2 linked regions of the Homo sapiens genome follow. The protein of the gene in region 2 purifies or fractionates together with the protein of the main gene of each other region. This does not show direct contact. Each region holds a gene or a part of one and is shown on either strand. Other genes may lie near its edges.

Region 1 (3,500 bases), on a different chromosome or scaffold from region 2:
CAGCGCCAGCCCAGCACTCAGGAGACGCAGCCCATTCCTGGCCCAGGTTGGGCCTTGTCCAGCCCAGGCAGCACTGTGTATTCTCCCCAACCCCTTGGGCCTGCCTGGCCCTTTGGCCCAGCCCTGAAGCCTTTTCCCTGCTTTGGCTCCCCCATGCCCCCACCCCAGGCATGTATCCCGCTCTGGGCTGCTTGTTGCATTCCTTCTGTGGCCTGGGCCTGGAGGTGGGTACCGTCCATTGGCAGCTTTGGCTTCTGCCTGCTGTCAGCCCTCGGGAGAGGCCAGTGACAGTGTGGGCCACGTGTCCATGCAGAAGGCCTGTGTGTCAGCCCTGCGGCCGGGGGAGGCGGGGCAGTAGCCCTTGTGTCTCTGAAGCAGTCTTCTCTCTCATGAAGCCTTCCCTGACCACCCAGGCAAGACACCCTCAGTGTTCCCTTGCCAGCGACCCTTTTCCCCAGCACCAGTTCACTACCGCATGAGGCCCGAGCTCCGGGTGGTCAGCCAGGTCTGCGGCATTGGGGCCCAGCTTAATGGAGGTGTTGGTAGTGCTTGTAAGATGGAGGAGGAGGTTCCTGTCCTTGCAGAGGGAGGCCAAGCACCCAACTCCAGGCTCGTCCCAAGAGCCTTATTCCATGGGGGCTCAGTCCTGGGAAGTTGCTTTGGAGCCAAGTGTCCAAGGCTTAGAGGGCGGCAGGAAGCAGAAGAGGCAGGCGGGGCACAAGCCCTGGGAAGCACTCCAGGCCCAGCCCCCCTTGCGACACAGCTGGACACTGCTCCTGCAGAGAAAGAGTAGACAACTCCCCCTCTTCAGCCTTGGCCACCAGTAGGGACTGGTTCCTTGGGGCTCAGCCGTGGGCAGGCCTCCCTGGGCAGGCCTGTATTCTGGGGCTGTCTCTGGGGTGTGGTTGGCTGTGGGAGCCTTGGGTCCCTCACTGGCTCGGCTCAGCAGGAGGGATGTGAGCAGATCAGCAGCTGGTCTTTCTGCTCCTGAAGACCCAGGCGTCTGGCAGGGTTGGTTGGTCTGGCCGGTTGGTTCCCTCCATGTGGGACCGTCTGGTGTGATGGGGACAGGGAGGGACTTCCCCTTACCCAGCACTGGTGTTGGCTGAGGTGGGTGCTGAGTCTCAGAGCTTGGCATGGAGACCAGACAGGGCTGGGTCTGCAAGCCTGAGGCTGCCGCCCTGAGCTCGGGCTGGGACGTGCCCAGAGGTGTTGGGAGGATCTGGGGTGAGTACCCTGTGGCCAGGACTAAAGGGGCTGCACCCTCCTGTCCATCCCTCGCAGATCTTGAGCAATGCCCGGTTATTTCTGGAGAACCTCATCAAGTGAGTGCCTTTGCCAGGTCCCACCCCTGCCCCACCCATGGCCTGTCCAGGCCCCGCCCCACAGCCCCACCTGCCACCCACTCAGACCCCCATCCCTCCACCCCCAGGTATGGCATCCTGGTGGACCCCATCCAGGTGGTTTCTCTGTTCCTGAAGGATCCCTATAGCTGGCCCGCCCCATGCCTGGTTATTGGTGAGCTGGGCTCTGAGGAGGGCCTCGGGTGGGGATCAGGCTGACGTGGCCCTAAACCTGCCCCTTGGTGCTTCTGTCCACAGCGGCCAATGTCTTTGCTGTGGCTGCATTCCAGGTTGAGAAGCGCCTGGCGGTGGTAAGCAGTGCCCCTCACCTCCGTGTGTGCTCACCCTGCTGTGTGCGCTCCTGGGAGGAGCTGCTCCCCAGGCCTGGCAGCCCTCTCCCAGGCAATGGGAGCCCTGGTTGAGTGCTCTGCTCCCCACTCCAGGGTGCCCTGACGGAGCAGGCGGGACTGCTGCTGCACGTGGCCAACCTGGCCACCATTCTGTGTTTCCCAGCGGCTGTGGTCTTACTGGTTGAGTCTATCACTCCAGGTGCGCCCCCATCCCACCCTGCCCATCTGTCTCGGGCCAGCCACGGGCATGGCCTCCGGCTGTGGCGCTGTGGAGGCCTGAGTCCACCTCTCCTGCAGTGGGCTCCCTGCTGGCGCTGATGGCGCACACCATCCTCTTCCTCAAGCTCTTCTCCTACCGCGACGTCAACTCATGGTGCCGCAGGGCCAGGGCCAAGGCTGGTGAGGGGCTGCCAGGGGCTGGGGCTGCCTGCTGGGGGGCTGGGCAGCAGCAGGGCCCCACCAGCCCCCTCCCACTCTGCTGTGCTCGTAGCCTCTGCAGGGAAGAAGGCCAGCAGTGCTGCTGCCCCGCACACCGTGAGCTACCCGGACAATCTGACCTACCGCGGTGAGGACCTCTGTGGGCCTGAGGTGCGGGGGACAGGCTGGGCCTGTTCTGGTACCAACCCCCCATTCCCATTCCAGATCTCTACTACTTCCTCTTCGCCCCCACCTTGTGCTACGAGCTCAACTTTCCCCGCTCTCCCCGCATCCGGAAGCGCTTTCTGCTGCGACGGATCCTTGAGATGGTGAGGTTGGGGGCTGGGGGCAGCCACTGGAGGCTAGGGGGCCTTCTGGCTAGCCAGGGCCTCAGCTGGCTGCTCTCTGTTTCCCCCCCAGCTGTTCTTCACCCAGCTCCAGGTGGGGCTGATCCAGCAGGTAAGTGGGGTAGGGCAGGGTTGGGTGTAGCTGGGCATGGCTGGGAGCTGACGTGGTGCCCTCCTTTGCAGTGGATGGTCCCCACCATCCAGAACTCCATGAAGCCCTTCAAGGTGAGTGGCTCAGGTGCTCTTGCAGCTGGGGTGGCTGGGGAGTGACCAGGAGCATGGCTAGCTGAAGGGCTTGTTTCTGCAGGACATGGACTACTCACGCATCATCGAGCGCCTCCTGAAGCTGGCGGTGAGTGCGGACAGGTGGCGCATGCACAGGACAGGAGGGGACAGTGGCATGTGGGGGAAGGTTCTAGAACTTGGTGCCCACCCCCACCTCCCTGCCAGGTCCCCAATCACCTCATCTGGCTCATCTTCTTCTACTGGCTCTTCCACTCCTGCCTGAATGCCGTGGCTGAGCTCATGCAGTTTGGAGACCGGGAGTTCTACCGGGACTGGTGGTGAGTGTCCCTGGGGTGTCCCTGGGGGCTGGGATGGGCCATGGTGTGCTCTGATCCCCCTGTGGTCTCTTGGCCCCCAGGAACTCCGAGTCTGTCACCTACTTCTGGCAGAACTGGAACATCCCTGTGCACAAGTGGTGCATCAGGTAGGTGGGGTGTGTGTGTGTGTGATGTGGAACATGGCTGTGAACCTGAACCGCTTTCCATGCCCCCTCCTCTGCAGACACTTCTACAAGCCCATGCTTCGACGGGGCAGCAGCAAGTGGATGGCCAGGACAGGGGTGTTCCTGGCCTCGGCCTTCTTCCACGAGGTCAGTGCTCTGGGGGGCATCTTGCCTCATCCCTGGGCAGGGGTATGCCCACAGCAGGGACGGCTGACACCCCACTCCCTGGCATCCTCTCTCCCTCCCATCTCAGTACCTGGTGAGCGTCCCTCTGCGAATGTTCCGCCTCTGGGCGTTCACGGGCATGATGGCTCAG
Region 2 (6,168 bases):
TCCTAGTTTCCCATAGCGATGGGCAATCCTTGGTGTTCCTTGACTTGTGAACATATCATTCATTCCAATCTGTATCTTTGTCTTCAGTATGCCATTCCCCTCCCCCAACCCTGCCCCTGTATCTTTGTGTCTGTGCATCTCAAATCTTCCCTCCTCTTATAAGGTGTGTTAGTCCATGTTCATACTGCTATGAAGAAATACCCAAGACAGGGTAATTTACAAAGAATAAGTTAAATGAATTGATAGTTCCACATGGCTGGGGAGGCCTCACAATCATGGTGGAGGGTGAAGGCACAGCAAAAGCACGTCTTACATGGCAGCAGGCAAGAGAGCGTGTTCAGGGGAACTGCCCTTTATAAAACCATGAGATCTCATGTAGCTAACTACCTGTTATAAAACATGAACAATGTTTATAAACATGAATAATGCATTATACGTGCATTATATGTTTATAAACACAAATAATGCATTATAAACACAATACTGCTTTATGGGAAACATAAATGAATGGGAAGAACCCGCCCCCATGATTCAGTTACCTCCCACCAGGTCCCTCCCATGACACATGGGGATTATGGGAACTACAATAAAACCATCAGATCTCATGAGACTTATTCACTATCACCAGAACAGCATGGGAAAAATCTGCCTCCATGATTCAATTACCTCCCACCGGGTCCCTTCCGTGACATGTGGGGATTATGGGAACTACAATTCAAGATGATATTTGGGTGGAGACACAGCCAAACCATACCATAAGGATAACAGTCTTTAGATTTAGGGCCCACCCTAAGTCCCAGGATGACCTCATCTTGAGGGCCTTAACTTAATTACATCTGCAAAAGCCCTATTTCCAAATAAAATCATATTCACAGGGGTGGAGGGGTTGAAACTTGGACATGTATTTTTTAGGGGGACACAATTCAACTCACTGCACACATTTACATAAATAACACATCTTTTAATAAAAATATTTTCGAAATAAAAATTTAGCAAGAAGAGTGACCTTATTTTTGTAAATCTTTCATATCTAGATTTAAGGAAGAAGCTGGGTGCTCATTTCCTTTGATATTCAATCTGTTATGCTGTTTTGGTTGAAATATATAATGAAAATCCAGCTTCATACAGATCATTACATACCCTCTGAAAGGGTTTCAGGAGGCTTCTGGGGACTTCAGAGCAACACTTGAGAACCACTGCTCTAAAGCATATACTCCATAAATATATGTAAAATGGAATTTCCAGGCTGTGGCTACATATTCCAGGCTATATATATATATATATATATACATATATACACACACACACACACACACTGTATATAGGTGTGTGTGTTCTGTGTGTGTATACATATATTCTACTTTATTAGATAATGGCACATTGTTTTCCAACTTGATTAACCAATTTACTTTTTCACTAGCAGTGTATAAGAGGTTTTGTGGCTCTATAAGTCGACCAATATCTGTTATTGTTACACTTAAAATTTTTGCCTATCTTGTGGTATGTAATGTATTGATTGCACTGTGACGTTTAATTTAACAAAAGTTCATCTAGTGCTTGCTATGTACCAACCACTTCTAGGTACTTTTTCCAAATATTGGTACTTTGTAATAATTCTCTATGGTAGGTGCTATTATCTCCATTCTACAGATACACACTGAGGCAGAGAATTTAAGCAAGTGGCCGGACGTCACACAGCCAGTACGTGGCAAAGCAGGGATTAAGCACTCCTGCAGTCTGCTCTTAGAATTCGCGCTCCTTGCCCAGCTGCTTCCCCCAAATATTTATTATTACTTATGAGAAAACTCCGCAAATTGCAAAGCGCTCTACCACCAACGATTAGCACCCTAGGGCAAAATGAGCCCTTTACCACTCCCTAGATGCTCCCCAGCGCTAAGTTCCCAGCGGAGGTTGCAGTGAGCGCAGATCGCGCCACTGCACTCCAGCCTGGGTGACAGGGCGAGACTCTTGTCTCAAAAAAAAAAAAAAAAAAACAACAAAAAAAGCCAGTGATTGGAGCGTAATTACCCTCGCCAACCGCCTGTAACCACGGCGGCCGCCACGCCCCGTTTCCTGGTCTCGCCCCTCTCCGCCCACGACTCTGGCCCCGCCCCTCGTCCCAGGCTGCAACGGAGGCAGAGCCAACGCCTCGCGGGCTTCCACGTACGCACTCCAACGCGTGTTCCCGGAGAAGAACGCATCCGGGTCACGGGAGCCGGTGTCTCAGGCTCCGCCCCTTCACCCCCCGAAAGGCTAATCCCCACTTCCGACCCTCTCAGGCCTTTTCCGCTTCTCTTTTACCTCCCCAGGTCCGCCCGTCTGCGCCCCTCACAGGAAGCCGGAGGGTCGCTCTGATCCCGAATCTCCCACAGGCGTGAACCTGCTCTGCTGTGTATCTTTGCGGGGTGGCCTGCGCTGAGGCCTGCCGCGCGCGGTGAGTCCGCGCAGACCTGACCCTGCGTCTCGCAGCTCGGTTGAGGCCGCCGCCGCCTTCTCGGGATGCCGCGGCCGGGGTCCGCGCAGCGCTGGGCGGCCGTCGCGGGCCGTTGGGGGTGCAGGCTGCTCGCACTGCTGCTACTGGTGCCTGGACCCGGCGGCGCCTCTGAGATCACCTTCGAGCTTCCTGACAACGCCAAGCAGTGCTTCTACGAGGACATCGCTCAGGGCACCAAGTGCACCCTGGAGTTCCAGGTATCAGGGGCCTAGCAGTCCCTGGGCCCCAACTCGCGGCTCCAGGATTGGGGGTGTAACTTGAGGGATGGCACTTTCCTGTCCGTGTTTCCCCGTTCTTAGGCTAATTCAAAAATCGCTTCTAGGTAGCTGATGCCCAGCATTTGACTTTCCTCTAATAAACCTTGGGTGAGAGATGTTAAGACCGGGTGTTAAAATATATGAATTCCAGAAATGCTCCCTTTAGCATTTCTTTCCATCTCATTTTTAAGGCCTATTGAACTTTCTTCCTTAAAAGATTCCCTTAAAGAAAATCATTTATACTCTGTAGTACCCAGTGTCAACCCTCTACTCTCTAATCCACACCTCCAATTTAATTGGATTTGGAGTGCTGCCAATGTCTAACTTCATTGCTTTTCAGTTTTACCAATATTAGGACTGTTGGTTAATACGGTCCTTGTCATTGGAAGAGCTCCATTACAGGTTGAACGGCCATTTGCCAAGGGAGTTGTAGAAAGAATTGCTGTGATAAATGAGAGGCCCCTTCTGATATTTGGGATTATATAAAAAAGAAACTTTAACAGAATGTGGTTTATTCGGTTGGTTAGAACAGTCTTTACTGAGCTTCAATTTTGGTTGGTAGGCGCATTTAACATTTGAGTAGCTATTGAATACTAGGTGCCAGTGGTACAGAAGTGGTCGAAACAGATAGGGTCACTGCCATCATTCATGATTCCCCTCTCACCCTGCTTTTCTTAACTGGTATCTGCTCATTCATCAGAACTGTGCCTTAAGAGCAGTAAGTAGGATCCATGAAGGAAGACTTCCTTTGGAAAATTATTTTAAGCTGAACTTTAAAGGATGAGCTATAAACACCTTGGTAAGGGAGGAGGGGGAATAGCCTGTGGTAGTAGTGAACACTGAGAATTTCAGGGCCATAGAGAGAGGTCCAATATGGTTGGGAATAAGGAGCCAGAGCAAGGGGGTCAGCAGGGGCAGGCCAGATAGTGTCTTGCTGACCATGTTAAGGATTTGTTTTTCCTGAAAGTGTAGGAAGCCATCAGAGGGTTATAAGCAGTTCAGTGATATGACGAGAATATTCTTGGTAGCTGCATTAATAATAACTTGTGCAGGTAGAGAAGTGATGGTAAGATGTTGCAGAGCGGATGTGGAAGGCTGATTAGGAGGTTATTATGGTGGTCTAGACAAGAAATGATAGTGGCTTAGAGTAGAGTGATAGCAGTGGGGTAAATGAAAAGTGAAAGGATTGGAGAGAAGGTAGTAGGTAGAATCAACAGGACTTGGTAATGATTTGGCTATAGTGGGTCAGGGAGGGGAGGCCAAGGATGACCCTTAGGCTTACTTACCTTCATGGATTAGCACCAGGGGACAGAAAAGAAGATAGCAGGAATTGTGATAAAAAGTATAAGCCGACATTTTCTTTGTTTGAATTTAATAAACATTTCCTGGATTTTTGTGTATGCAGACTCAGTGATTAGTGCTAAGGATACTACTACAATGGCTAACAAATTAGCATCTGTTATGTGTAGACAGTATGTTAAGCATTTCAGGTATGTTCTCAGGAAAGCCCGATATGAAATTGTTATAGCTCTTACTCCTTTTTTACTGATGAAACTGAGGTTTAGATAGGCTAAGAACCAAGGGCATAAAACGTAGAAGTAGCTAAATCAGTAACGCAGTCCCAAGTTAAATTCTTAACCACTTTATTATACTACCTCCCAGAGACTGACTTTGATCTCAGAGAGCTTACACAGACATATATAGTCATAAAATGTTAAATGTGACAATAAAGGTACACACTAGGTATAGTGCTGGCAGGAGACAGAAGGATCATCAGGGGACATTTAGCTGAGGAGCTGATGTTAGAGGTGAGTCTGCAAGATAAGTAGCCGTTGCTCTACAAGGCGGCAGAGGAGAGAAGAAGGGGCCCCAGGCAGATATGTTCATGACAGTTCCAGCAGGCCTGAAATTAGCCTGAGCTATATTGCTAACATTTGTGCATGGCATTGAAAATACACTGAATAATAATAGTTTTGTGACTATAGTTATATTTATTAATAGTCACAAAACTATTATTATTAGCTTTAATATGAAGCTATTATAATAGCTTTGTGACTGTGAGTCCAAGGGCTTTGGGGGCAGTTTGTACCAGTTTGTCAACATTATTTATTGGTAACAATGAGATTGATGATTTGCTCCTGGTCTTCATGAGACCACACCCCCAACCCAGAGCTCTGTTGTTGAGACTAGCTGCGTAGCAGGAATATGCCTATGTGACCAGCAAAATATTTAAAAATGCAATCAGGACTCTATTTTGGGTTGCTTGGTTCCAGGGTGTTTTCTTTGCACACTTGGGTGGTTCCAGATCTGAGAGAGTATATGTCTGGCCACACACCTAACAAAGGGAAGCCGAAGGAGCCCACACCTGACCTTTTCAGATCTCTTGCTGTGAGGCAGCCTTTGGCTGTAATGTTTTATATTCTTTTCCTTTTGGGGCTCTTTTCAGTCCCAAGTTAAATTCTTAGCCACTTTATTATACTACCTCCCAGAGACTGACTCTGACCTCAGAGAGCTTACATAGACATATATAGTCGTATAATGTTATAAACTGTAGATTTATAACATAACCTACAGTAATAAACTGTAGATTTGCAAACACTGTCATTTTGATCCGTGTGATTCTTTAGCAAACCCTGTTGAACTGCACTGTCAGTGCAGATGTAAAGCAAAGACTTGTTCAGAGAATTTCTGGTAGTCTGGTATTTTAGGAACATAGAACGAGTAAGGGTGTGAATAAAAGAGGTTCTGAAGCTACCTGGGAGGAAGAACATGTGAATAGTATACCATTGTTAAGAGGTTTAGATTTGTCTGCAGGCCACAGGTAATTATCAAAAAGTTTTTAAGTGATTGCTCAATGGGGAATGAGGAAAGATGGGGAGATGGGCACCCCTTCTTCCCAGGAGACATTCGGCATCATTTTAGGAGAAGGGCAGCTACCTGCATCTAGTAGTTAGAGACCAGGTATGCTGTTTAACGTGTCACAGTGCACAGGACCATACAGCCTCCTACAACACAGAATTATTCAGTTCAAAATGGGAATAATGCGAGGTTGAGAAACCCTGAGTTCGAGGGAGAAGATATTGGGTAGTGGGAAGACCTTTTAGGAAGTTGTGGCAATAGTCCTGTCTGGATTGTGGTTTCGGAATGCGATGAATTTGAGAGGGGCAAAAAGATTGAGAGATTTGTGTGATCATATGGATAGATAGGGACAGTTAGTTTGGGATGATCCTCAGTTTCAATAGTAGGTGATTGGACAGGTTTAAAGGGATACTGTTAAGTGAGATTACTTGTTTTAAGTTTGATGGAAGAGAAGTGGGGTGATGATAAGTTCTGGTGCTATTCGGTTTGTATGTATGTGTTTGATTATTCAGAATACAATGGTCAAATACGTATAATTCAGTATAGCAAAATGAAGTT

What was found.
Region 1: the proteins of TMED7 (region 2) and DGAT1 purify together in Homo sapiens (affinity purification with mass spectrometry; one large-scale study listed by BioGRID and IntAct). This does not show direct contact.

The regions. Positions count from the first base shown.
Region 1 is NC_000008.11:144,316,853-144,320,352, reverse strand, and holds part of DGAT1 (diacylglycerol O-acyltransferase 1), read left to right. Parts: intron 1-1,284; coding exon 1,285-1,325; intron 1,326-1,432; coding exon 1,433-1,518; intron 1,519-1,601; coding exon 1,602-1,654; intron 1,655-1,786; coding exon 1,787-1,892; intron 1,893-1,990; coding exon 1,991-2,092; intron 2,093-2,183; coding exon 2,184-2,258; intron 2,259-2,335; coding exon 2,336-2,439; intron 2,440-2,530; coding exon 2,531-2,569; intron 2,570-2,640; coding exon 2,641-2,682; intron 2,683-2,764; coding exon 2,765-2,809; intron 2,810-2,907; coding exon 2,908-3,020; intron 3,021-3,037; exon of another isoform or gene 3,038-3,100; coding exon 3,101-3,166; intron 3,167-3,243; coding exon 3,244-3,331; intron 3,332-3,437; coding exon 3,438-3,500. UniProt on the Homo sapiens protein: Catalyzes the terminal and only committed step in triacylglycerol synthesis by using diacylglycerol and fatty acyl CoA as substrates. Highly expressed in epithelial cells of the small intestine and its activity is essential for the absorption of dietary fats.
Region 2 is NC_000005.10:115,622,124-115,628,291, reverse strand, and holds the start of TMED7 (transmembrane emp24 domain-containing protein 7 precursor), read left to right. Parts: upstream 1-2,255; 5' UTR 2,256-2,499; coding exon 2,500-2,691; intron 2,692-6,168. Other genes in the region: TMED7-TICAM2 (TRAM adaptor with GOLD domain isoform 1 precursor), read left to right, coding at 2,500-2,691. UniProt on the Homo sapiens protein: Potential role in vesicular protein trafficking, mainly in the early secretory pathway. Appears to play a role in the biosynthesis of secreted cargo including processing and post-translational modifications.